Regions from separate parts of the Homo sapiens genome. Here all the other regions are linked to region 2. A link means that fine-mapping ties the variant in region 2 to the plasma level of a protein whose gene starts in the linked region. Region 2 holds a variant in brackets. A gene starts in each other region. All regions are shown on their reverse strands.

Region 1 (8,150 bases), not on the chromosome of region 2:
TGGCCAGGCTGGTCTCGAACTCCTGATCTCAGGTGATCTGCCCACTTTGGCCTCCCAAAGTGCTGGGATTACAGGTGTGAGCCACTGCACTTGGCAAAATACACAAGTCTTAAATGTGCAGCTTGATGAAATTTTACATACTTATATACCTGCGTGACCACCACTGAGATCAAGATACAAAACCTTTCCAACACCTCACATGTTTTCCTCATTTCCCCCCTCAGTCAATAATTTCCCACCCTCCCAGAGTTAACCGCTGTTGTGTTTTATCACCATTTATTATAATTTTGCTTGGGTCTGAATGTCATAGGGCTGGATTCATTCCATCCTCACTCTTCTGCAGCATGCTTCTTTCATTCAACCTTATGTCTGTGCAATTCATTCATGTTGCAGTGTGTAGCAGTAGTTTATTCTCTTGTCATTGCTGTATAGTTGTCAATTATATAAACATACTTTTGTTTGTTTGTTTGAGATAGGGTCTCACTCTGTCACCCATGCTGGAGTGCAGTGGTGCAATCTTGGTTCACTGCAACCTCTGCCTCCTGGATTCAAGTGATCCTCCCACCTCAGCCTCTCGAGAAGCTGGGACTACAGGCTTGCGCCACCATGTCTAGCTAATTTTTGTAATTTTTGAAGAGACAGGGTTTTGTCATGTTGCTCAGGCTGGTCTGGAACTCCTGAGCTCAAGTGATCCACTCGTCTCGGCCTTCCAAAGTGCCAGGATTACAGGTGTGAGCCACTGTGCCTGGCCCAATTATATCACTATAATGTTATTATCCATTTTGCTGTTGATGGATATTTGGATTGTTTCCAGTTTTCTTTCTTTTTTAAAATTTTTTATTTTTTTAAGACAAGGTCTCATGTGCATAAGCTGGAATGCAGTAGTGTGATCATGGCTCACTACAGCTTTAACCTCCTGGGATCAAGCGATCCTCCCCACCTCAGCCTCTGGAGTCACTGGGACCACTGATGTGCACCACTGTGTCTGGCTATTTTTAAATTTTTTTGTAGAGATTGGGTCTCTGTATGTTACCCAGGCTGGTCTCAAACTCCTGGGCTCAAGACAGTCTCCCACCTCGGCTTCCCAAAGTGGTGGGATTACAGGCATGAGCCACGGCACCAACTTTCTCTATCTTTTTGTTTTATTCCAACCCTCAAAGGATTGGATGATTCTGGAAACACCCTCACAGGCACACCTAGAAATAATATTTAACCAGATATCTGGGCATTCCTGGCCCAGTCAAGTTGACACACAAAATTAACAATCACAGATCCTCTCTAGCTCAGGGCTCAATACACCAGCCCGAGAGAACCCCCATCCATCTTCTCCTCTCCCTGAATGACTGAGGAGACCGTGCCTCTCCAGGCAACCTCTGCCTTAGGAAATCCTACAGATGATTCACAGGAAACACATGGCTGTGCTCTCTGGGGCAGGGGCAATGGGCTGGGTAGGGGTTTCAAAATCAACCCTGATTGACAGAGCCACGGGTGCTTGCAGTTTTTCCCTGCACCCCCCACCCTCTCCCCTGGACAAGGTGGGAACAGGGCCCTTGAAGGGGAGTACACTGCAGGAGGAAAAAGAAGAGAAGGGAGAGGGTTTGAGCACCCCTCTCTGTCCTCATGTGGTCTCTGGAACGAGCATGCACACTCTCCCCTTTCTCCTCCCTGCACAGAGTCCCTGTGTTCCGGGCCCACACCCTCACTTAGGAGGCTCTGCCTCCCCCAGGGTTTCCCAAATCCTCCTCCCAGAACATGCCACATATTTCTGAAGGTCCTTTTGCCAACAAGCATTGTCCTGGGAATATCAGGCTGGTTCCTTACCGTAAAATTACCCACATAGTGAAACTTTTTTTTTTTTGAGATGGAGTCTCACTCTGTTACCAGGCTGGAGTGTTACCAGGCTGGAGTGCAGTGGCACGATCTCAGCTAACTGCAACCTCCGCCTCCTGGGTCCCAGTTCAAGTAAATCTCCTGCCTCAGCCTCCCAAGTATCTAGGATCATAGGTGCGTGCCACCATGCCCAGCTAATTTTTGTATTTTTAGTAGAGATGGGGCTTCACCATGTTGGCCAGGCTGGTCTTGAACTCCTGACCTCATGATCTGCCCACCTTGGCCTCCCAAAATGCTGGGATTACAGGCGTGAGCCACTGCATCCGGCTGTGAAACTTTTTTTTTTTTTTTTGAGAGAGTCTCGCTCAGTCACCCAGGCTGGAGTGCAGTGGCGCGATCTCGGCTCACCGCAAGCTCTGCCTCCTGGGTTCACACCATTCTCCTGCCTCAGCCTCCCAAGTAGCTGTGATTACAGGTGCCCGCTATGACGCCCGGCTAAATTTTTTTTTTTTTTGTATTTTTAGTAGAGATGGGGTTTTGCTGTGCTAGGCAGGATAGTCTCCATCTCCTGACCTTGTGATCTGCCCACCTCGGCCTCCCAAAGTGCTGGGATTACAGGCGTGAGCCACCGCACCTGGCCTTTTTTTTTTTTTTTTTTAATGGGGACTGGGTTTCGCCATGTTGCCCAGGCTGGCCTCGAATTCCTAGGCTCAAGTGATCTGCCTGCCTCAGCCTCCCAAAGTGCTGGGATTATAGGCGTGAGCCACCACCACCATGGCTCACTGCAGCCTCAATCTCCTGGGCCGAAGCTATCCTCCTCCCTGTCTCCTGAGTAGCTGGGACTACAGGTGTGCATCACCACATTCAGCTAATTAAATTTTTTTTTTTTGGTAGAGACAGAGTCTCACTATGTTGCCACTCCTGGGCTCAAGAAGGTGTGAATCACTACACCTGGCCGTTTTTTTTTTTTTGTTTAGTTTTGTTTTTGTTTTTTGAGACGGCAACTTGCTTTGTCGCCCAGGCTGGAGTGCAGTAGCGCGATCACAGCTCATTGCATTTTGGCGCTGGGTTTTCTTGATATCTCCCCCACTGGACCTGACCGGGGCATGGGCTGCCCTGTGAGTGCCTCAGCCCTCGTCCATCACTGCCCATGGGGCTGATACACCTGTGTGCACACACTCAGGTGAAGACAGCTGCTGCCCGTAGGTGAGGTAAGACACTGAGCACCTGTGTGGGAGGAGATCTTCCACTCCCACTCTGTCCACACCAGACCATGAAGAGCTCTCCATAGCATGGGTGCTGACCAGGCCCAGCCTGGGTGACAGAGTGAGACCCTGACTCAAAGAAAAAGACATAATGAGGTGTGATTTTAATTTCTTGGATGTCCCAGTATATATAAATGTTGGGAGTATGGATTGCTTCATTTCATTTTAAATAGCATTTTTTTTTTAAGATGGAGTCTCACTCTGTCACCCAGGTTGGAGTGCAGTGGTGCGATCTCTGCTCACTGCAGTCTCTGCCTCCCGTGTTACAAGTGATTCTCCTGCCTCAGCCTCCCGGGTAGGTGGGATTACAGGCATGTGCCACCATGCCTGAATAACTTTTGTATTTTTAGTAGAGATAGGGTTTCACCATATTGGCCAAGCTGGTTTGAACTCCTGACCTCCAGTGATCCGCCCACCTTGGCCTCCCAAAATGCTGGGATTACAGGCGTGAGCCACCGTGCCTGGCCACCCTTTATCTTCTTTTCTTTTTGAGACAGGATCTTGCTCTGTCGCTCAGCCTGGAGTGTGGTGATGCAGTCATAGCTCACTGCACTCTTGAATCCCTGTGCTCAAGCCATCCTCCCACCTCAGCCTCTACTACAGGCATGCACCACTACACCCAGCTATTTTTTTATTTTTTGTAGCAACGGGGTCTCACCATGATACCCAGGCTGGTCTTAAACCCCTGGCCTTGTGATCCTCCCACCTTGGCCTCTCAAAATGCTGGAATTACAGGTGTGAGCCACCATACCTGGCCCCCTTCATCTTTTTTCCACTGCCTTGTGCCAACCCAGTTTGTGCACTGGGGCCTTGCGATCCTCTCAAAGCTGATTCAGCCTGCATTCCTTTCCCAGATGGACACGTGTGTGATAAACAGCTCTGCAGTGGGGTGAGGGAAGGCAGGGGCAGCAGGGTCCTGTATGTCCTGCCATCTCCACAAAAGGGCAGTCCTTACCCCAGCCTTGTGCTGATGAGACCAGGCATAGACAGTCCTGACGACACAGGGCGGAAGGGAGCAGCCATTAGTGCTAATGAGGCAGGCGGCCTGAAAGCTTTGTACTCTGCAGTGGCTCGCCCACCCAGGGAACAGTTCGTTCTGTTTCCTTGGCTTCCAGGAACCCTAGGCAGAAAGGGGTTTGGGGACAGGAGCAGGAGTGGGCGGTCTTGGAGAAACCTGGAGGGAGAAAGGGAGGGGAGGACCAGAAATGTAGTCAGGAGGGCCTAGGATTGGTTAGGTGGGCTTTTCCTTCCCCTTTCCCTCCAAAGAAACCCAGGTTCTGGTTCTGCACCTACCCCTGCCCAACAGTGGCCATTGGCCCATCACCCGCTCCAATGTCCTTGACCCGAATTCTTGGAAGCACAGGAAACAACATGCCACATAGGGGTTGAGTAAGCATCTCTGGGGCCACAAATTAAATTAAGCTTTCAGGGCCGCCTGCCTTGTTATTGCTAATGGTTCTAGCCCTGCTCAGCTCCTAGGTCCCTGTCCTGTGGAAATTTGTGGACCCTGGGCACCCTCTCTTGCTCCCAAATTTTAATCGGCTCCTGGAAACCTCACCCCAAATTGGAGATAGGCACTCCTCTTGTAGAACAAAAGGCTCAGGTTCAGGGAGTGAGGGCCTGAACTGTGCCCCCACCCTCCAGGAAGGGTCCTTCACGGCCTGGCTGCAGGGATCAGTCACGTGTGGCCCTTCATTAGGCCCTGCCATATAAGCCAAGGGCACGGGGTGGCCGGGAACTCTCTAGGCAAGAATCCCGGAGGCAGAGGTGAGTCCTCAGGTTGGGCAGGGACTCCTCCTCTCTGTGGGGTCTCTATCTGGGCACCTAGAGGGGACTCCAAGGATAAGGAGGGACTAAGTGGTACATCTTCCTGCTGAGCCAGGCCATGCTGACCGCAGCGGTGCTGAGCTGTGCCCTGCTGCTGGCACTGCCTGCCACGCGAGGAGCCCAGATGGGCTTGGCCCCCATGGAGGGCATCAGAAGGCCTGACCAGGCCCTGCTCCCAGAGCTCCCAGGTCAGTGTGAGCAAGGGTGGGACTGGGCGGGGCCTGAATACCCTCTGGCCACAAATAGTCTCCCCTGGCATAAACCCTCTTTCTCCCTTCCCAAACCCTCCCCTGGGAGGTGGGTGCTTTGTGCATGGGGGTTCCTGCCCTCACATCCTCTGCCCCAGGCCTGGGCCTGCGGGCCCCACTGAAGAAGACAACTGCAGAACAGGCAGAAGAGGATCTGTTGCAGGAGGCTCAGGCCTTGGCAGAGGTAACTGCTCAGGGAAAAGGGTAAGGTGGTGGCCCTTGGGAGGGGGCATTGGGTATTAGCTCCTCTCCCCAGCTCCAAACTCCCTCACCAGCGACGACACTACCGACCACCCCTTCCCATGCTCCACTGCCATCCTGCACAGGTTGGGACAGGTAAGATCCCTGGATCTGTCTTTAGAGGCCTGTGCTGGTTCCCCACCCCTGCAGGTACTAGACCTGCAGGACCGCGAGCCCCGCTCCTCACGTCGCTGCGTAAGGCTGCATGAGTCCTGCCTGGGACAGCAGGTGCCTTGCTGTGACCCATGTGCCACGTGCTACTGCCGCTTCTTCAATGCCTTCTGCTACTGCCGCAAGCTGGGTACTGCCATGAATCCCTGCAGCCGCACCTAGCTGGCCAACGTCAGGGTCGGGGCTAGGGTAGGGGCAAGGAAACTCGAATAAAGGATGGGACCAACCCCAAGGCTGTGGTTATTTCAAACGTGGCCGTCAAAGGAGGGAGGGTTCATGGAGGGGGTGGGAGTGTCACCAAGCCAAGAAACCACACATACTCTTATCCCAGGGCCTGGGCTACCCTATCATAGGAGGCACATACACGGGCGCTTTTAGGGGTCCTGGTGCCCCTGGGAAAAATAGAGAAGAGCCGCACTCCAGCTTTCGAAAATCTTGTACAGCAAGTGCGGGGAACGCAGGACGCAGCGTGGCACAGGGGCTATCACTCCTGGCTAACAAATAAGCCTTAGGCTCCAGGGCTTGCTGCTACTTCCACGCAAAGCCTGCCCCTCATCCTGTTACCAGAGGGAAGGCCAGGAGTGTGCGTTGTTCAGGTCCTTAGCGTTTCGAACAAAGAATTGAACAAAACCCAGAAAGTAACAAACGAATGACACACAGGAAGGAAGCAGACAGCTGGGATTTGTTAAAGCGAGAAAGCACTACGCAGGGTGGGAGTGGGCCTGAGCAAGAGGCTGAAGGGGCTCAGTTACAAAGTTTTCCGGGTTTTAAGTACTCCTTTTGCGGTCCCTGTCCGTTACCCCTTATCTGGATGAAGGGTTTGGTCCATGGCTAATTAATCCATTTATGCCTGAGGTTGCAATCTTTTTGAATTTTTGCAATCAGACCTTGGCCATGACCTTGAGCAGTAGGATATAAATAACTCCCATATGCTTAGCGTTCCAATAATGGAACACAAGGCATAAATGGGGCTAAGGTGAATTGGCGCCCTATGCAGATGAAGGGATGGCCCGTGCTTGGCCCGCAGCCAATCCAAGGCACTCTCCCTTTCAACTGAGACGTGGTGGAAGGGGGAGGGTTGTGGGGACAGTGGCCTTTGATCCTTTGTTACTTGGACATGGGGAGATGGGGTTTTTCTTTTTGGTTTAGCTTTAGTAAGCTCGCCTTAGTTGGCCTCCGGTTCCCTGCCCCCAGACCTTGGTGTTTTCCCTTGATTCAGCTTCAGAATTCAGCACGTATTGGCCTCAAGTTCCCCGCCTCCAGACCCTATTCTCCTACCTCAATCGGACCTCAGTTTCCCTCTGGGGAGGAGGCTGGCCCAGCAGTCTGGAAACTTTCCAAGCTTGAGAAGGGCTCGCTCCCTTCTTTACCCCGCCCGCCCTGCAGCGTCAAGTGCAGCAAACCGGGGAAAGCTAGAGAAGGCCCAGTCAAATCCCTGCGGCCACAGGCGCCACCAAGCGGCCGGCCTCAAACTTCCTCTTTTTAGCGCGCAGGCGCCGCAGGGCCAGCCCACGCCTGCACCGCGCTTCCGCGCAGCCACCCGGAAGCCGGGCACCGCTCAGAGCCACGCCCCCTTATGGTCACGTGAGGCGCTTGCGCGTCACCTGACGCACTTGACAGCCCGCTGAGGACGCAGCGTCAGCTGACCTGGGGAGTCGCGATTCGTGCCGGCCGGTCCTGGTTCTCCGGTCCCGCCGCTCCCGCAGCAGCCATGTCGTTCTTCCCGGAGCTTTACTTTAACGTGGACAATGGCTACTTGGAGGGACTGGTGCGCGGCCTGAAGGCCGGGGTGCTCAGCCAGGCCGACTACCTCAACCTGGTGCAGTGCGAGACGCTAGAGGGTGAGCCGGGGCCGCGAAAGGCGGGGATAGAGGCTGTCCGGGGCCTGAGGGTTCAGAGGTGTAGGCCGGGAAGCCGGAAGGGGGGGTCTTGAAGGGCCTGAGAGGCCTCTCTGGGAATCCTGGGGCTGATAGCGGACGCGCAGGAGCGGGATCTACCTCTAGCTGTGGCTCGGCGCGGGCCCAAACTCAAACAAGGCTTTAAGAACCGCAGTTGTTCGCCTCTGCTTGGGCCACCTTTTCTCTCGCTGTGCTCACCCTGCAGTTTGGGAGGAGGGGGTGTTTCGGGGGTAGTTGGTCGGTGCGAGGTGTGGCCATACAAACCTCTTTACCCTGACGTAGCCCGAGAGCTGTCGCGTAGCAACCCTTAGGGAAGCTAAGCGGAAAAGTCCCCCACCTCTTCCCCCTCCCCCCGCCAAGACACTAAGGTCTTTGGGATCATCGTGTCTTCGCGTTGGCCTGCGGGGTGAGCCTTCCTGGGGAATTGCTGAGCCAGTTTATCGAGGGTTTTCTCCCAACTCTGAACTGCTGGCTGGGCAGTATCTCCTGAAGGCAATGTTTGGGAGAACAAGGGTGGCCCTTGCAGGTCTGGAAGTTCATATACAAGTATTTGGCCAATTAATCCCACCCCCTCAGCGAGGGGGATGCCTGTTGGGACAGGGTTTCTGAGCACAAGAGTAATGAGAAACCGAGTTCCCCTTTCTTCTCAGCACACAGCTCCAGAGTGGCGT
Region 2 (8,180 bases):
TGGATTGCATTGTGAAATTCTTATAGTTTGTTTCTCAGCTCTCAGCTCTGTCAGATCCGTTAGGTTCTTTTTTTATACCAGCAATTTAATCTTTCAGCCTCTATATTATTTTATTGTGATTTTTAATTTCCTTGAATTGGATTTTGCCATTGTGCTAAATCTTGATGATCTTCATTTGTATCCGTAGTCTGAATTATATTTCTGTCATTTGAGTTAGCTCAGTCTTGTTAAGAACCCTTGTTGGAAAACTGGTGCAGTTGTTTGGAGGACATATGACCTTCTGGCCATTTGATTTATTGGAGTTCTTACGTTGGTTCTTTCTCATGTCTCTGTGTGGGTGTTTCTTTAACTGCAGTGTAGATTGAGTACAGCCAATAGACTTCTTCTTTGGAGGTTTTCACAGGGCCAAGGCCTTGTACAGGGTCTTTATTTGTAGCTGACTTCTTGTCTTTGGTTTCATAGTGGGGCATGTTAGCAAAATAGTTTTGCTGTTGAAGTTTTGGGGTGTGATCCATTTTTTATTTTAATGATTGTGTATTTCCTTTATACCTAAAACAAGCAGAAAACCAGTAAAGGTCTTTGAGTCTCTGAATTCATAACTCCAGCATTCATATTGCTTCCTCAGGTAAGTGGGGTTTTCACCCAGCCCTTAAGGGTGTTAGATTATTTTTTATGTGAAATTAGCCAGATTGTATTTCTAAACATGATGTAAAACAATAATGACAAAAGTTATAATAAACTAGCCTTCTTACCAAATCCACATGTCTAATGTGTGTGGGAGGGTGTTAGGCAGGGGACCTGCAGCTAAGGGAGAGGCAGACAGGCCCCATGGCCCCAAATCTAGGATAGTATTTGGTATTGGTTGATGGGTGAGAGAAAGAGAGGGAACATCTGTGCAGGATGTGGTATCAGCACCTGGACTACATCTTAGGGATTCCTTCTTCATTTTTCAGTATGCCCTGACAATAATTATATCTATCAGACTTACCCCCTTGACCACTGGAACACTAAGACTGTTTTGGGATCTCTGCCTGACTTTCTCAGAGGTGCTGGTGAGGACATTATGAGTCTGGAACCTAGAAAAGCGTTCTGACTCTGCTGACTTTCTCAGAGGTGCTGGTGAGGACATTATGAGTCTGGAGCCCTAGAAAAGCGTTCTGACTCTGCCACTAGCCAGACAGACCTGGACTAGGCACGTTAACTCTTTGTATGACTTGACTCCAACCCCTCATTTGTAAAACCAGCATTTTCAAGTGGTGTTTTCCACATCAGCCTTTTGCATAAGCTGTCATTTGAAGAAAGGTTTTTGTTTGTTTGTTTTTTGTTTAACAAAAAGGTTAAAAACCACTGGTCTAGATAATTGCAAAGTTTGCTTTCCTTTTTCTGTGCTTTTTCTACTATTTTTAAAATGTCATCCTCCTTGGTTTCTTGATCCCCCTTTCTGCACTCCTGAGTCTGGGAACACTGAGGCCAACTAAAAGGAAACTTGGCAAAAGAGGAACACCTTTGGGTGTGCCAGGCTGCTCCCAGTGTTTTGCACTTATAAAAATTTAAATGCTGCAAACCTCTAAGACTTAGATATTATTGTTCCTATTTTACAAGTGAGGAACCTGAGGCTCAGAGAAGGTGCAGGATGGCACAGGGAGACCTGAATTGGAACCCTGGTTCCCACTTACTGGCTGTCGGGACTTAGAAAAGTCATGAACTCTCATTGATTGTTTTCTTATATGAAATGGGGGCTGCAGGGTTGTCGGGGGAGAAACAATAAGAATGTGCATCAAGTGTCGAGCACGTGCTACGCACTCCATCATGGCAGCTCCTACTAATATACAGAATAGAGTTGTATCTAACATGACTCTTTCTTGCAAGTGACAGAAAATCCAACTTAAGATGGATTAAGCAAAAAAGGGGAATTCTTGTTGAGCTGAAAAGTCTTTAGGCTCACATGATGGCCCCAGGGCCCAGGCCCTGTCCAGCCATGCAGTAGGCATCATCCTTGGGCACAAAGGTGAGATTCTTGTGGTGGCAGATGCTGTGGCAGCTCTTGCTTTGCCAGGAAAGACTGAGGAAGGCCACTGTCCCCATTAAGTGAACAATAGTTGGCCAGGTCTGAGAGGTTGAACTTGGGTCACAGGCCTGTCCCTGAACCCATCACTGATTGGCTCCAACCTGCATCAGCTATTACATGCTAGAGGTGGAGGCAGGACCCCACTCATACCCAGAAGGGCAAAGGGTGGATCCCTCAACAGGATTATGGGATGTAGGGTGATAGACTGCTGGGCAGCCAGAAAGCAAACAGATCCTCTCCAATACCTCAACTGATGAAAGCACCAAGCTAAAATCATAAGGATCTGGGTGTGAATTCTGGCTCTACCATCTTCCATGTGACATTGGGCAGTTATTTAATCTCTTTTAGCCTTGGCTTTCTTACCTGTACTAACATATAAGGTGATTGTGATGAGCATCATCATCGTCAACATCATCATCACCATCCACATTGCCACCACCACTCCCATTATCATCTTCATCAACATCATCACCACCGCCACCATCACCATTATCATTACCACCACCGCTATCACTATTATCATCACCCTCAACATCATCACCATCATCACTATCATCACCACCACCATCATCGTTACTACCACTACCACCACCATCATCACCACAGCCACCACCACCATCACCATCATTACTACTCAGCACCACCATCATCATTCCACCACCATCACCATCATTCCACCATCACCATTATCATTACCACCACCACTGTCACTATTATCATCACCCTCAACATCATCACCACCACCATCATCATTACTACCACCACCACCACCATCACCATCATCATCATTCTACCACCATCACCATTATCATCACCATCACCATCACCACCGCTATCATCATGATAATCATTATCATTACCACCACCATTAGCATTATCATTACCACCACCATCACTATCACTATCACCATCACCACGACCACTACCACCATCACCAACACCATCATTACTACCCACCACCACCATCATCATCATTCCACCACCATCACAATTATTACCACCACCACCATCACCACCACCACCACCATCACTATCATCATCAGTAGACATCATATAACCAGTTTGTAGCTGGCCCAGAGCCTACTTGCTGTTTCTTCTGCCCCACAACCATCCACACATTTCTAACCACCATCCCCCACTAGGCTTCTGCCTCGCCTGGTCTCACCTGCAGGTCCACTGAGAAAATGATTCTCAGAACACTAACTAGACCATGAGGTGCCACAAAACATAACTCAGGCCTGTTCATCAATTTTCTACATGTCAATAATGACATCAGGTCAATTGGCGTTCTCAGCCTCTGAGAGGGAGGTCAAAGTTTTCCTGCTCTCCCCTTCATGTTTCCAGGTGTTCCCTGACTTGGATCAAATGCAGA[G/A]TTTGGAGGTGTTGAGGCCAAGGGGATTTTCCAGGTCAGTCGTCATCCACAATCAATGGACTGATCCTGCCGCTGGACTTACCCTGCTGCCCTCTCCCCAAGGCCCCATCAGGGAGGGCTTCAATCCTCTTGTCACCTGTGGCCTACCTGCCCTCAGAGATGACATCTCTATGTCGGCCACTGGATGGCAGCACCTACTCGCAGACCACATCAACTTTCCTGGCAACTTGCGGTAGGTTTTCACCATTATCAGGATGTTTGCCTTGCTCAAATAGCAGATTCTAGAGAACGGTGCTCCCTCACACAACTATGTAGTCCAGGTGATGCACCCTCTGCCCGATGCTTGGTAGTCAGAAACTTCCATCATGCAGCTCTGCCCAGATTGAGCTGAGCTGGCCTCTGGAGTGAGGTGCTGGGACAAACATCTTCCATGCTGCTCATGTCAACTCCAGATGCAGTCAGGTTTCTGAACCAAAGTCAATGATCTAAGTGCAGTCAAAGGCTCTGGGGGAAGAAAGAGAGAGTGCCTCATCTCTTGCCTGTGCCATGCTCGCAAAGCAAGGATTTTTGCAAAATTCTAATGAAAGCTGGGCTTGCAAAATTAGAAAACTGGATTATTTGTGAGAACACTGAAACATCCCTGGGTGTGTCCATCTGGAAAAACAGCATTTCCTCTGGCAATTTTGCAACCGTTCTATTTGAATTTGGCAAAGAAAATAAAGCAGTTTTTCACAAAAGAATAAACACAACCAGGAGAATCTTCACTCTCCCAAATTGTCAAAGAAGTATAAATTAGAAAATGAATCAGGACAATTTCAACCTGTTAGATTAGCTAATATTTAAAAATTGAACACTCATACAAGTGTGGTGAAGTGATTGTTTTCTAGTGACATTTTACACTGTCATAACCTTCTAGAAAATAAATTGGCAGTGTTATTGGGAGACAGAAATATGTCTATATAATTTATGGGAACTTAGGCTCAGAAAATATTAAGGAATAAGAATGAACTTTATGAACAAAGATGTGGAGGGTTGGAAGCAAGAGGGGGGCCAACGCGCACGGGGAGGAAGCATTTGGGCAGTGACTCCGCAGACCCAGGCTCAGGTTGAACTAGACAACCTCCTTACACCTCAGTTTCCTTAACTGTAGAGCAGGAGTGATGGAACTGCCTGTTTCATAGGACTGTTGTGAGGATGAAGTGAGATACACCACATTATAAGCTTGTGCCTGGAAAGGATAATGCTTAGTAAATGATGACTATTCTTTTTTATTGCAATAAAATGTACACAGCGTAAGAGTTACTATTTTAACCATTTTTGCAGGGTACCACCAAGTGGCATTTAGTACATTCACAGTGGTGTGCAACCATCATCATATTTCCAGAATATTTTCCTCATCCCCAAAGGAAACCTCATGCTCATTAATCAGTAGCTCTCCTTTAAAATATTAGTTATGAAGATCATAGCACTATACAAAACTCATTATGTAATGTTGAGTGAAAAAATCAGGGTGTGAAATTTTGTGATATGATGTAATTAGTGAAAGAAGCATACAAAAAGTCTGAAAATATAAAAACAATAGCAATTGCATTTCTCAGACTCTACATTTAAACATTATTCTTTATGGTTTTAAAAGCAAAGAAAAAGGTAAAGAAACAACAACCAACCGCAAAGCACCATGACAAAGCTCAGATTGTTAAATCCAGGTTTTTGGAACATAGACTCTTATATGACGTTTACACTCTCCAGGGTTCAGAGAGTCTGGCAGCATTGGGAGCTGCCTTGTGTTCTACAGCCTCACGGACAGACAGGAGGTCCATCACCACTGCTCTGTTCTTCTGGAGTTTCCTTGTGAACATGTTGTGGACGTAGTTACCATTTCTTTCATCTTTTTAAACACAGGTACCTTTGGGGCTGGCTTTCTCAAGGAAGCCCAGCTCCCTGTGATTGAGAATGAAGTGTGCAATCGCTATGAGTTTCTGAATGGAAGAGTCAAATCCACTGAGCTCTGTGCTGGGCATTTGGCTGGAGGCATTGACAGTTGCAAGGTAAGAAAAGATCAAGAGACCAAAGTTAGTCTTGTGCTCTCCTGTCTCAGTCTCAGTCCCTTAGACTTGAGTCCCAAAGTAGCGAATTCAAGTAGGATTTAATCAATGGAAGACCCCAGTCTAAGTGTTGCTCAGAAACTCCCTAGATCTGTCCCAAATGTATATTCAGATCATCCAAGGGGACTTCTTGGGGCTTGAGTTCCAGATCAGCAGCAAGGGAGCCATAAGTGCCATAACTACCTCAGACCACTCACCCTCCTGGGGTGTCCCGGTGGCCAGGGACTAAAGTGGTGATTTTTCTGGTAGGGAAGGAGGTAGAGGGTACAGGACAGAGACTAACTGCACACAATATCTGAGACTGGAGCTCAGATATTGCTGATGATCAGAGTTGGCGTGTCTCCCCAATTGATTTACAACTGGGGCTTGGATACTGTTTTAAACGGGAGGAGCCTCCTAACCATCTTGACACAACCACTGACGTGACTACACTAGAGATAGACTCTTTCCACTTAATTCTACCACTCTTGCTTTACTTCATGAGAACGAAAATGTAAGATTGCACCATGAATTCATTTGCGGAAAGATTGATACTATGCTTTTATTTTATTTTATTTTATTTTATTTTATTTTATTTTATTTTATTGAGACTCTCACCCCGGTTGAAGTGCACTGACGTGATTTTGGCTCACTGCAACTTCCACCTCCTGGGTTCAAGTGAATACTCCAGCCTCCCTAGTAGCTGGGATTACAGGTGCCCACCACCACGCCTGGCTAATTTTTGTATTTTTAGTAGAGATGGGGTTTCACCACATTGGCCTGGCTGGTCTCAAACTCCTGACCTTGTGATCCACCTGTCTTGGCCTCCCAAAGTGCTGGGATTACAGAGTTGAGCCACCGCACTCGACCCTATGTTTTATTTTTAAAAATATTTATTTATTTATTTAAGCCACAACTACTAGAATAGGAAGGATTGATATTTTATTAATTTTATTTGGTATTTATTATTTTTTTTTCTTTCCTGAGACATTCTTGCTCTGTCACCCAGGCTGGAGTGCAGTGGCACATTCTTGGCTCACTGCAACCTCCATCTCCTGTGTTCAAGCAATTCTAGTGCCTCAGCCTACTTAGTAGCTGGGATGACTGGCATGTGCCTCCACACCCAGCTAATTTTTGTATTTTTTGTAGAGACAGGGTTTTGGCATGTTGCCCAGGCTTGTCTCAAACTCCTGGCCTCAGGTGATCCATCTGCCGTGGCCTCCCAAAATGCTGGGATTATAGGCATGAGCCACCACCCCCTCCTGGAAGGATTGATATCTTATAACATAATTTATAATTACAGAAAACATGTGAGTTCACTAGGAATAAATAAATTTTGAAGATAATAAAAGATTTTCACTTATGTTGTCATTTCGGCACAGTTTGGTATAGGATGTGGAGATGTTAACATTTATACCTAGCTTGCTCGTAAACTAAGACCTGAAAGGGTTGTGTCTATCAGCTGCACCCCTGGGTAGCGACACAACCTCGGGAAGGCCTCAGCCCCCTCCTCGTACAGCACTGCCTGTTGGAAAGCTTGAGGGAGGCTATGGATGTGCAGCACTTGGCAGAGGGTCTGGTCATGGAAGTTACCAGCAAATATGAGCTACTTTTATGATTTTATTTTATCCAAAAGAAAGAGAATGAAAGAAGAGGGGAGGAAACAAGACTAATCAGGAAAGATGAAGGTCTAGGGGTGAGGGAAGGAGTAAGGAGACATAAAGGCAATGTGGAGCAGCTGAGGGGGGAAATGGCTTTCACCACTTCCCAGCATCTATTGACATTGCACTCTCAAATATTTTATAAGACTCTATATTCAAGGTAATGTTTGAACCCTGCTGAGCCAGTGGCATGGGTCTCTGAGAGAATCATTAACTTAATTTGACTATCTGGTTTGTGGGTGCGTTTACTCTCATGTAAGTCAACAATGTCCTGGGATTGGGACACACTTTCTGGGCACTGCTGGCCAGTCCCAAAATGGAACATAAGGAAGTGGTTCTTCTACTTCTTTTATTTCTGAAATCAGGTAAGACATAGTTTTTTTAAATTATAAGAATTATTTTTTCTCCCACAATGTAGTAAAAATACATATGCCATGGCTTTATGTGCAATTCATTTAATTTTTGATTCATGAAATTCCCAGTTCAAAATCTTGTATATGATTGAAAAATTCTTAAAAAAATAAGTTTAATTTCCCCGTGAAGACTGTCACGGTGCTGGAATGAATGGGCAGAAAAAATAATGGTTGATTTTTCTAATCTAAAAGAGTGTGCCTACATGATGGCCAGTCTGGCTGAAAAATAAATAGCCATTGTAGCTAACTATGCAAAGGATGGCTAAGCTCTTCGCTTGGTTCTCAGTTTCATTAATTTATATCATCTCTGTTCAGGTGCCATGCTCCCCTCACTAGCAAGTTGAAACAATGAAATAACTCTTTGAATATGTTTGGTTCCTTGACCTGTTCATGGAGTGGGACTCAGCATTTCTCTCTTTGTTATGGCCTGAGTAAGGCTTTCCATCGGTATACATTTGCTTCTTATCCCTGGAGAAATTATACACATCCATTTGCCAGATGATATACGCATATAATGATTCAACAAATACTCAGGGTATTTGTTGAGTGGGTTAGGTCCCCACATTTTTATACATACATACA
Region 3 (8,159 bases), not on the chromosome of region 2:
AAATAAATAAATATATAAACCCCACAATACTTTAAACATATAATTTAAACATGTTAACTAACATTAATGCTTCTAAAGGGCTTATCCTTTAGATACGGTCAAATGACTAAAATCATTTAATCTCAGTAATTAAAATAAGATATTAAATGATTTAGAACTAAGATCAACCAATTTTGAAAACAAAATTTAAATCCTATGTAATTTGTAAAATAGTTTGGATTTGATTTTTCCCTTAATTGTCAATGTTGAGAGTGAAAATATGGCATTTCATTTTGACTTTCGGAATGTTCAGAATAAAGTTTACAATTTCTCAGATTCCATGTAATCCCTGAATTCATCCTAAAGTTACTGGACCAACGTAAGTTTCTTCTTAATGAAATACCAAGTGGGCACTTTCTTTTCAGAATTCACCAGCTATAAAATAGGGAGACCTCTGCATTTTAGATAAACTGTTTTCAGGCTAAATCTCTAATTATTGGGACTAGAATTTTCAAATATGGGAGTGAGACTGCAAAAAAAACACAGTGAAGAAGAAAAGAAAATAGCTCTATTTGTCTTTTTCTAAATACTGTCATTCAATTAGCCCTGGGCAGGCCGGAAAGTCTGACAATGTCTGTGGCAACCCTGCAGTTTACTCCTTGGTTTGGTTTTCTTTGGTGGTCGTTCTGTTTCTCCTAGACACCTTGCTAGCGTTTCCCCCTACAGCATTTCTCTGGCGCATTCTTGCCCCTTTCACTGGGTACTTTCGAGATTTCTGGACCGGGCCCCACTGCCGTAAGAACCACAACAAACCATAAGAGGTGAGTGAGAGGAGATTGCCAGCCTACCAGCCTGGGGAACCTGAATCTGGGGATCACGACTCTGTGACTGTAGTTGCACAAAATGGAAGGTACCCATTTTGTGTAGAGTGTGCCCTGTACAAACATTTACCTAGAGCTGACTAAGTGCCTGATACTGTCCTGCCCTGGGATAGAGCGAAGGAAAAGAAACAATCCCTTTCCCTAACATCCCCAGGATCTCCTGGTGTGCAGGCACTGGCGCTCCCGGAATCGGTCCCGCGGTCCCACCCACCTCTGCCTGGTGATGAGGTTGATGTAGTGTCGCAGCGCCGAGTAGTATCTGGCCATGTCCTCCGCTGGTGCGTCCTCGCCCGGGTTGTCCGGCTTGGAGGGGTACGCCTCGGCCAGCGCACCCAGGCACACGAGCAGGGACAGGGCGAGGGTCAGTCCGGACAGCCCCAGTCGCTTGTTACCTAGCATCTGCAGGCACAGAAGGCTCAACGGACGGGCTTGGGGATTCAGAGCACCCACGCGCAGCACCTCCCTCCTCTGCCCCCCGCGCTCCTCCTCCTGCTACCACACGCGACCCCCAATCCGCTCTCGTCCCAGTCCCGCAGAGAGAACCCAGGAGTGGCTAGCACCACCTTGCGGGCTCCGGGCGCCGTCCGGTCGGGACCTGCCCCTCTGCTCCACCTGAAAACTTCGCGCAACTTCGTTCGAAGTCTCAGGGACCAAGAAGCGCGCGGCGAGAGTGCAAGGTGGGGGCCCCGCCAGTTTAGCATTCAAAACCGAATTGGAAGTTCTTCCTGCTGGGTCACTTTTCTCCCTTCTTGCCCAAACTCTTGTCTGGGAAGAAAAGTTTCTTCTCTGTTACTTCTGGTCTGCCTAGCTTCAGGGGATCAACGCTGACAGCAGAGATCACCTCGGGGTGACGACTGCGGTGGGGAAGGGGAAAGAGAATTGCTCCCTGGGCCAGAATTGCTCCAAAGAGATTTGGAGCCCAAGAATCCAGGGAGGTGGCAGGGCGCGGGGCTCTAGAGCTCCAGGGATTCCTCACTCGATGGCGCTGCCGGGGAAACCTTCCTACCGCGCACCGCTTCCTGGGCCTCAAGGCGGCGACCCGCAGGGAGACCGCCAGCTGCCTTGGGATAGCGGTCCCGGGTTCTCCCTCCATATCTGCTAAAAGGTAACTCAGAAGAACCGCCCAGCGGGAAGGGCCCGGGAGAAGGGCCGTGGACAATCAGAGGGGAGCAGAGGAACAAGTGGAATTTAGCCGCCAAGAGGGCTGGTCCGCGTCGGGGCGCGGAGCCGGCATAGTCCGCTGGGGAGTGGAGCGCGATCATCCCAGGGCCCCAGGGCTCCACAGAGCGGGAGGCTGCGTCTCTAGCAAGTTCGCGGGCGCCCCGTTCGCTCCCACCCCTAGACAGACGGGTCGTAGCACTCACGGTGGCTGGCGCGCGGGCGTGGCTGGGCGGCAAGTACTATGCTGTCGGGCGAGCGTCTCCGAGGGGTGAGAGCCAGCGGATGGGGTGCAGAGAGCGGGTCGCGACAGGGCTTTTATGGAGCTTCCTCGCCGCGGCAGGAGGGGCCTCGGGCAGTCACGCTTGGGTGACTCCCACCCGCCACTTCCCGCCCCTGAGTGGCGGGGGGAGGGGGCTGGAACCGCAGCCGCACGAGTGTCGACTTAGGGAGCCACCCACACCCCAACCCTCCCGCCCCAGGCACTGCCTGAAGAAGCGGGGCCTGGGACCGCGTGAGCGAGGCAGCGCACTCCGAGCGCGCTGGACAACACCAAAGCCCAAGTATCTGCCCTCGGGCAGTGCCCGATCCCTGCTTTCCTTCTTTCCTTCTTTCCTTCACGCCCCGTCTAGTCCTGCCAGAGATAGGAGCAGCCCAGACGATTCTTGTCTCCTGCCAACAGGACTACCAACCCACTGGGTGCCGGAGTAGGAAGCACCTGAATCCTCTTTGTGGTGGGGCATCTCCACGACTAGCGCGGCATCCTCGCCGGGCACAACTGCGCGCTGTTGGAGTGAGGCAACTGGGCGCACAGATTTTTCCTGTACTTAGAACAAGTCGGAGGCAGCTGCCGGAAGTCTCCGGCTAGAGGGTCCCAAAGCTGCGCTCCCCACCCCACCCCCGCCCGTGGTTTCAGGGGCTTCTGCCCCTTCTCTCAGCTGGTTTTTCTAGATCAGCCTTCCTCAAGTACTCGCTCAGACGCAGCGAGCCAGGCTCGGTCGAGACATGAGTGTGGCGACTCAAAATTCCCCAGAGGGGGAACACGGTAAACCTATTCCCCCAGTTTGCTGAAAAAGAGCCACGCTTCCAGCTTCTAGAGACTCTTTTAAGCTCAATTTTAAAAATATATATTTTTTCTTTTTTGGTCCAAAGTGACGGTGGTTAAATGAACAACAGTTTCTGTCTTATTTACTAACCCTTGTATAGTCCTATGTACGTTCAATTAACGTTGAGAATGTGGGTTCTGATTAAGATGAAACATGTTAAAAACGATGAACATTAATTTGCTCATCGCGTTAAACCTGTTGAATGAATATGCAAGATACAGAAACTATTATTACAGGATCAAGATTTTATGCAGTGGACTGAGATCTGAAAGTTCCGTGAATGAATGCTCCTGTATCTTTCTAAATAAAATGGCATTTTATTTCTAAATGAAATATAAGTCTGAATCTTTCTAAATAAAAAGGCATGTTGGGAAATTAAAGCATTAAGTTCCATGTTATTTTAATGCTAAAAGGACAAGTGATTCTGTTAAACTGACACTTAGTTTTTGTGCTGTTCCAACAGCATTGAATTAAATATCAAAAACCGTGAAGCAAACAATCCTTTGCATGTATGTGTTTGTGTGTTTGTGGGATCAAACTATAATTTTGGAGACCAACATCCCTTTCACTTGGCAACTGCTTCTCTTTCTGTATTACACAAACATATGCTGAGGACACAAAAATCAAGGCTCTCAGAGTTGCTCGGGGGTGCTTACAAGACACAGCCTTCGGTAAAAGTGCAAAACATCTTCTAACTTAGAGCTCTTCCTAGATAAAGGGAAAGTTACAGTCCACTTTTCAATAAAATAATCTTATTTTAGAGTGTATCACAGATTCATATCAATTAAAATCTGAACTTAAAATGTATCACTGAATTTGGGAAAAATTACTTCTAGGAAGGCCCACACCACTATTGAGAGAAGAACACTGTGGAGGCTTGATTAATTTAGCTTAAGATAATGTCATTGATTCTCAAGAATAAGAACTTATTCTGAGGGTTAAGGATTCAGAGAATAAAAAATAGGGGGTGATATGCCCTACATGTGCTTACATCCTTATCTCCTTTCTCTCCAGTCCAAGCCACATCCCCTGGCCAAAATACAAACAAAACCAACTGTTGGCAACTCAACCCTGCATCTTCTCCTAGCTGCTGAGCCATTTCTCTCCTTTGTTTCAAAGTCAAGTTGTTTATTTCTAACAGCTTTGTTAAGATAACATTGAGATACTGTTGAGCTTGTTGAGATTCAAAAGGAGGTGAATCAGTGGAGACTAGAGAAGGTAATGACCGAGAGAAGTCAAATAACCGGTAAAGGTCCATGTGGTTTGCAATTAGGAGGTCTTACTGATAGCAGGTTCATAGCTTGATTCAGATAGAACCTGGACCACATGAAACCCAGTGGTTTCATGACTAAACCTAAGGTAAAGAAGCAGAAGGAATGAATAGATACTGCTGAATATATACAAAGCTACAAATGTGTAAAATATTCAATTGGATATATTCTTACACATATGCATGTGTGTTATATGCTCAGGAAGCCATCACTGAAACCAAGAAAATGAAGATTATACATCACTTCCCCAAATTTCCACATGTACCTTTGTAATTCCTTCCTTTTGCCTCTTCCTCACCCCCTCCTCCATTGATCTGCTATCACTAGAGATTTGTTTGCGTTTTCTAGAATTGCACATAAATATAGTTCCACGGTAGGTACTCTTTGTCTGACTTCTTTCACTTAGCATCATTATTTTTGAATCCACTCACATTGTTAAATGTAGCAATAGTTTATTCTTTTTTATTGCTGGGCAGTATTTCATTATATGATATACTTCAAAATTTTTAATCAATTCTACTGCTCATGAATTTTTGGTTATTTTCACTTGAAACTTTTACGAATAAAGCTGCCTTGACATTCATATGCAAGTCTTTGTATGGACATAAAGCCTTTAATTCTCTTGGAAAATACTTAAAACCAGAATGGCTGAGTCAGACGGTGAGTGTATATTGGCCCACAGTTTGTTGGTGATCTGTTTTTGCTTCTGTTTTGCTCATTTTTTCCTTCATATTTTATTTTGGATAGTCTCTATTGCTATGTCTGTGAGTTCACTAATGTTTTCTTCTGTAATATCTGATTACTGCCAATCCTATCCAGTGTATTTTGCACCTTATACCTGGTAGCTTTCATCTCTAGAGTTTCAACTTGAATCTTTTTTTTAAGTTACAGGACAATATAAAGCAATGAATCTTTTTTATATCTTCCGTATCTAAACGTGTCCACTCTTCTCTCTAGCTTCTTGAATATACATTAATAATAACTTTTGTACTACTAACATCTGTGTGATTTTTGTATACTTTGGGTTGATTGATTTTTCTCCACATTATGGCTTATATTTTTCTTCTTCTTTGTGTGCCTGATAATTTTTGATAGGATGTCAGATATTGTGGATTTTACCTTGTTATTTGTTTTTTTGTCTTTCTATGACTGTTCTTGAGCTTGTTCTGAGACAATTAAAAATTTAAAGACAGTTTTATCCATTCAGGTCTTGGATGTGAGTTTTGTTAGGTGGGACCAGAGCTGGTTTTAGACTAGGTTTACTCTTTCCACACTTTGAGGCAAAATTCCTTCTTTTTACTTTAACTGGTAACTGACTTCCCCCCAACACGCACACCTCAAATTGCACAGCTCTCCCCTCTGGCTGTTCAGATAGACACTATTCCCAGCCCTTGGTCAGCATCAGACACAGTTTACCCTTATCTTTTTGTGTAGTTCTTTTCCTGGTCTCAGGTGGTTTGTTCTTGTGTATAATCTGATCAATAATCAACTAAATCCTCAAGGGGGACACCCTTCAGACTTTCAGAGTATTCTTTCTTTTACCTGATAATCTTCCTGTGGACACTAGCTGCCCTGGCTCCCTACACTTCCAGCCCCAGCTCCTTGGCCAGGATGATTCAATTCCTTCCTTCTGCACTGTAGCCTGGATGACTCCTTCAGGCAGTGTATTCTCATGCTGCTATGAAGAAATATCCAAGACTGGGTAATTTATAAAGGAAAGAGGTTTAATTGACTCACAGTTCTGTATGGCTGGAGAGCCCTCAGGAAACTTACAATTATGGTGGAAGGGGAAGCAAACACGTCCTTCTTCATATTGCAGCTGGAGAGAGAAGTGGCGAGCAAAGGGGAAAAAACCTTTTATAAAACCATCAGATCTTGTGAGAATTCACTCACTATCATGAGAACAGCAGCATGTAGGTAACTGCCCCCATGATTCAATTATCTCACACCAGGTCCCTCCCACAACACGTGGGGATTAAGGAAACTACAATTCAAGATGGGATTTGGGTGAGGACACAGCCAAACCATATCAGGCAGTGATCTGGGACCATTGTATGGCTCTTGTCATTTGTTTTCTATCTCTAAGATATTACTGTCCTTTACTGATGTCCAATGTTTTAAGTGTTGTTTCATCTATTTTTGTCTAGTGTTTTAGTTGTTTCAGCAGGGAGGGTAAATCCAGTTCCTGTTTCTTCATCTTGGCCAGAAGAGCAAGTCTTGTAGCAAGGCTTCTTTAAAAAGATGTTTCTATTCATTGTCTCTGGTTATTCACCATAGGTGTAGTCATGAAACCACTGTGATCTAGGTTCTATCTGAATCAAGTTATAAACCTGCTATCAGTAAGACCTTCTAATTGCAAACCACATGGATCTTTATCAGATATTTGACATCTCTTAACCATTACTTTCTCTTGTCTCTCTGATTCACCTCCTTTTTCTCTGAATGTACCACCATCTCCTTTGCTGACTCACCCTTCTGTACCCATAGTCTTAGCCTTAACCTTTCTACTGCACACATAAGCTCATCTACTCCTACAGCTTATGATCCTGAAATCTCTCCCTTCAGCTCAGATTTCATACCTGGAAACCAGGGCGATACGTCTAGCTCAGAAAAACTCCATCAAGGGCCTCAAATTTAGATTATCAAAGTGGAGCTTCCACTAACATGAATGTCTAATTAAATATCATATGAAGTGTAAAATGTTTTCAAAATTCTTCCATTGAACTATAAGGCCCCACATATTTTGGACCCTACATACCTCCTAGGCTCATCTAACATAATTTTTTTCTTCACTCCCTGTATTTCTGTCCATTGTCCTCCTTTCTGCTCCTTAAATATGCCAATCAGCTTTCCTATTTGGGCCTTCATTGTGCTGTGTCTGCTCTCTGAGATATTCTCTCTCCCTACTCTTTACCTGGCCAACACCTACACAACCTTCTGGGTTTACCTTGAAATATTTTCTGAGTGTTCTTTAGGTCCGTTCCAAGAGGCCAAATAGGAACAGCTCTGGTCTGCACCTCCCAGCTGATCGACGCAGAAGATGGGTGATTTCTGCATTTCCAACTGAGGTACCTGGTTCATCTCACTGGGACTGGGCGGACAAAGAGTGCAGCCCACGGAGGGCAAGTCAAAGCAGGGGTGGGCATCGCCTCACCCAGGAAGTGCAAGGAGTCAGGGGATTTCCCTTTCCTAGCCAAGGGAAGCCATGACTGACTGTACCGGGAAAATTGGGACACTGCCACCTAAATACTGTGCTGTTCCCACGGTTTTAGCAAACAGCACACCAGGAAATTATATCCCACACATGGCTCAGCAGGTCCCATGCCCACAGAGCTTTGCTCACTGCTAGCACAGCAGTCTGATATCGAACTACAAGGTGGCAAGCCTGGCTGGGGGAGGGGCATCTGCCATTGCTGAGGCTTGAGTAGGTAAACAAAGCTGCCAGGAAGTTCGAACTGAGCGGAGCCCACCACAGCCCAATGAAGCCCGCCTGCCTCTGTAGACTCCACCTCTGGGGGCAGGGCATAGCTGAACAAAAGGCAGCAGAAAGTTCTGCAGACTTAAACGTACCTGTCTGATAGCTCAGGAGAGAGCAGTGGTTCTCCCAGCATGGTTTTTGAGCTCTGAGAATGGACAGACTGCCTCCTCAAGGGGGTCCCTGACCCCTGTGTAGCCTAACTTGGAGATACCTCCCAGTAGGGACCAACTGACAACTCATACAGCCGGGTGCCCCTCTGAGACGAAGCTTCCAGAGGAAGGATCAG

Alleles and levels. Positions count from the first base shown, and alleles are read on the strand shown. Strength reflects both the effect of a copy and how common the allele is.
In carriers of allele G in region 2, the plasma level of the protein whose gene starts at base 4,832 in region 1 tends to be lower than with A alone (weak association).
With allele A in place of G in region 2, the plasma level of the protein whose gene starts at base 2,310 in region 3 is higher (weak association).

Evidence for each region. PIP is the chance, under the fine-mapping model, that this variant and not a neighbour inherited with it causes the effect. Protein levels are from antibody-based Olink assays in UK Biobank. Linkage for the fine-mapping came from a reference panel and not from the study's own genotypes, which makes the PIPs less certain.
Region 1: AGRP starts here. The variant in region 2 is fine-mapped to the plasma level of the AGRP protein (UK Biobank, PIP above 0.99).
Region 3: it holds the start of NPY, and the variant in region 2 is fine-mapped to the plasma level of the NPY protein (UK Biobank, PIP above 0.99).

The regions. Positions count from the first base shown.
Region 1 is chr16:67,480,229-67,488,378 of GRCh38, reverse strand. AGRP (agouti related neuropeptide) reads left to right here and starts at 4,832. Exons shown (of 4, transcript NM_001138.2): 1 at 4,832-4,862; 2 at 4,978-5,110; 3 at 5,269-5,354; 4 at 5,561-5,808. The coding sequence starts at 4,981. The coding sequence ends at 5,743. It overlaps ATP6V0D1 (ATPase H+ transporting V0 subunit d1), which reads left to right and starts at 7,222. Exons shown (of 8, transcript NM_004691.5): 1 at 7,222-7,422. The coding sequence starts at 7,293. ATP6V0D1-DT (ATP6V0D1 divergent transcript) reads right to left here and starts at 6,985. Exons shown (of 4, transcript NR_184227.1): 1 at 6,860-6,985; 2 at 4,051-4,269. RefSeq lists a silencer at 6,942-7,111 and enhancers at 7,222-7,271, 7,432-7,671.
Region 2 is chr6:160,663,536-160,671,715 of GRCh38, reverse strand. LPA (lipoprotein(a)) reads left to right here and starts at 7,441. Exons shown (of 39, transcript NM_005577.4): 1 at 7,441-7,550. The coding sequence starts at 7,502. The variant G/A (reference allele first, on the strand shown) is at 3,441.
Region 3 is chr7:24,278,341-24,286,499 of GRCh38, reverse strand. NPY (neuropeptide Y) reads right to left here and starts at 2,310. Exons shown (of 4, transcript NM_000905.4): 1 at 2,225-2,310; 2 at 1,072-1,259. The coding sequence starts at 1,259. All of the region lies in intron 2 of LOC107986777 (a long non-coding RNA gene), which reads left to right. RefSeq lists an enhancer at 7,176-8,159.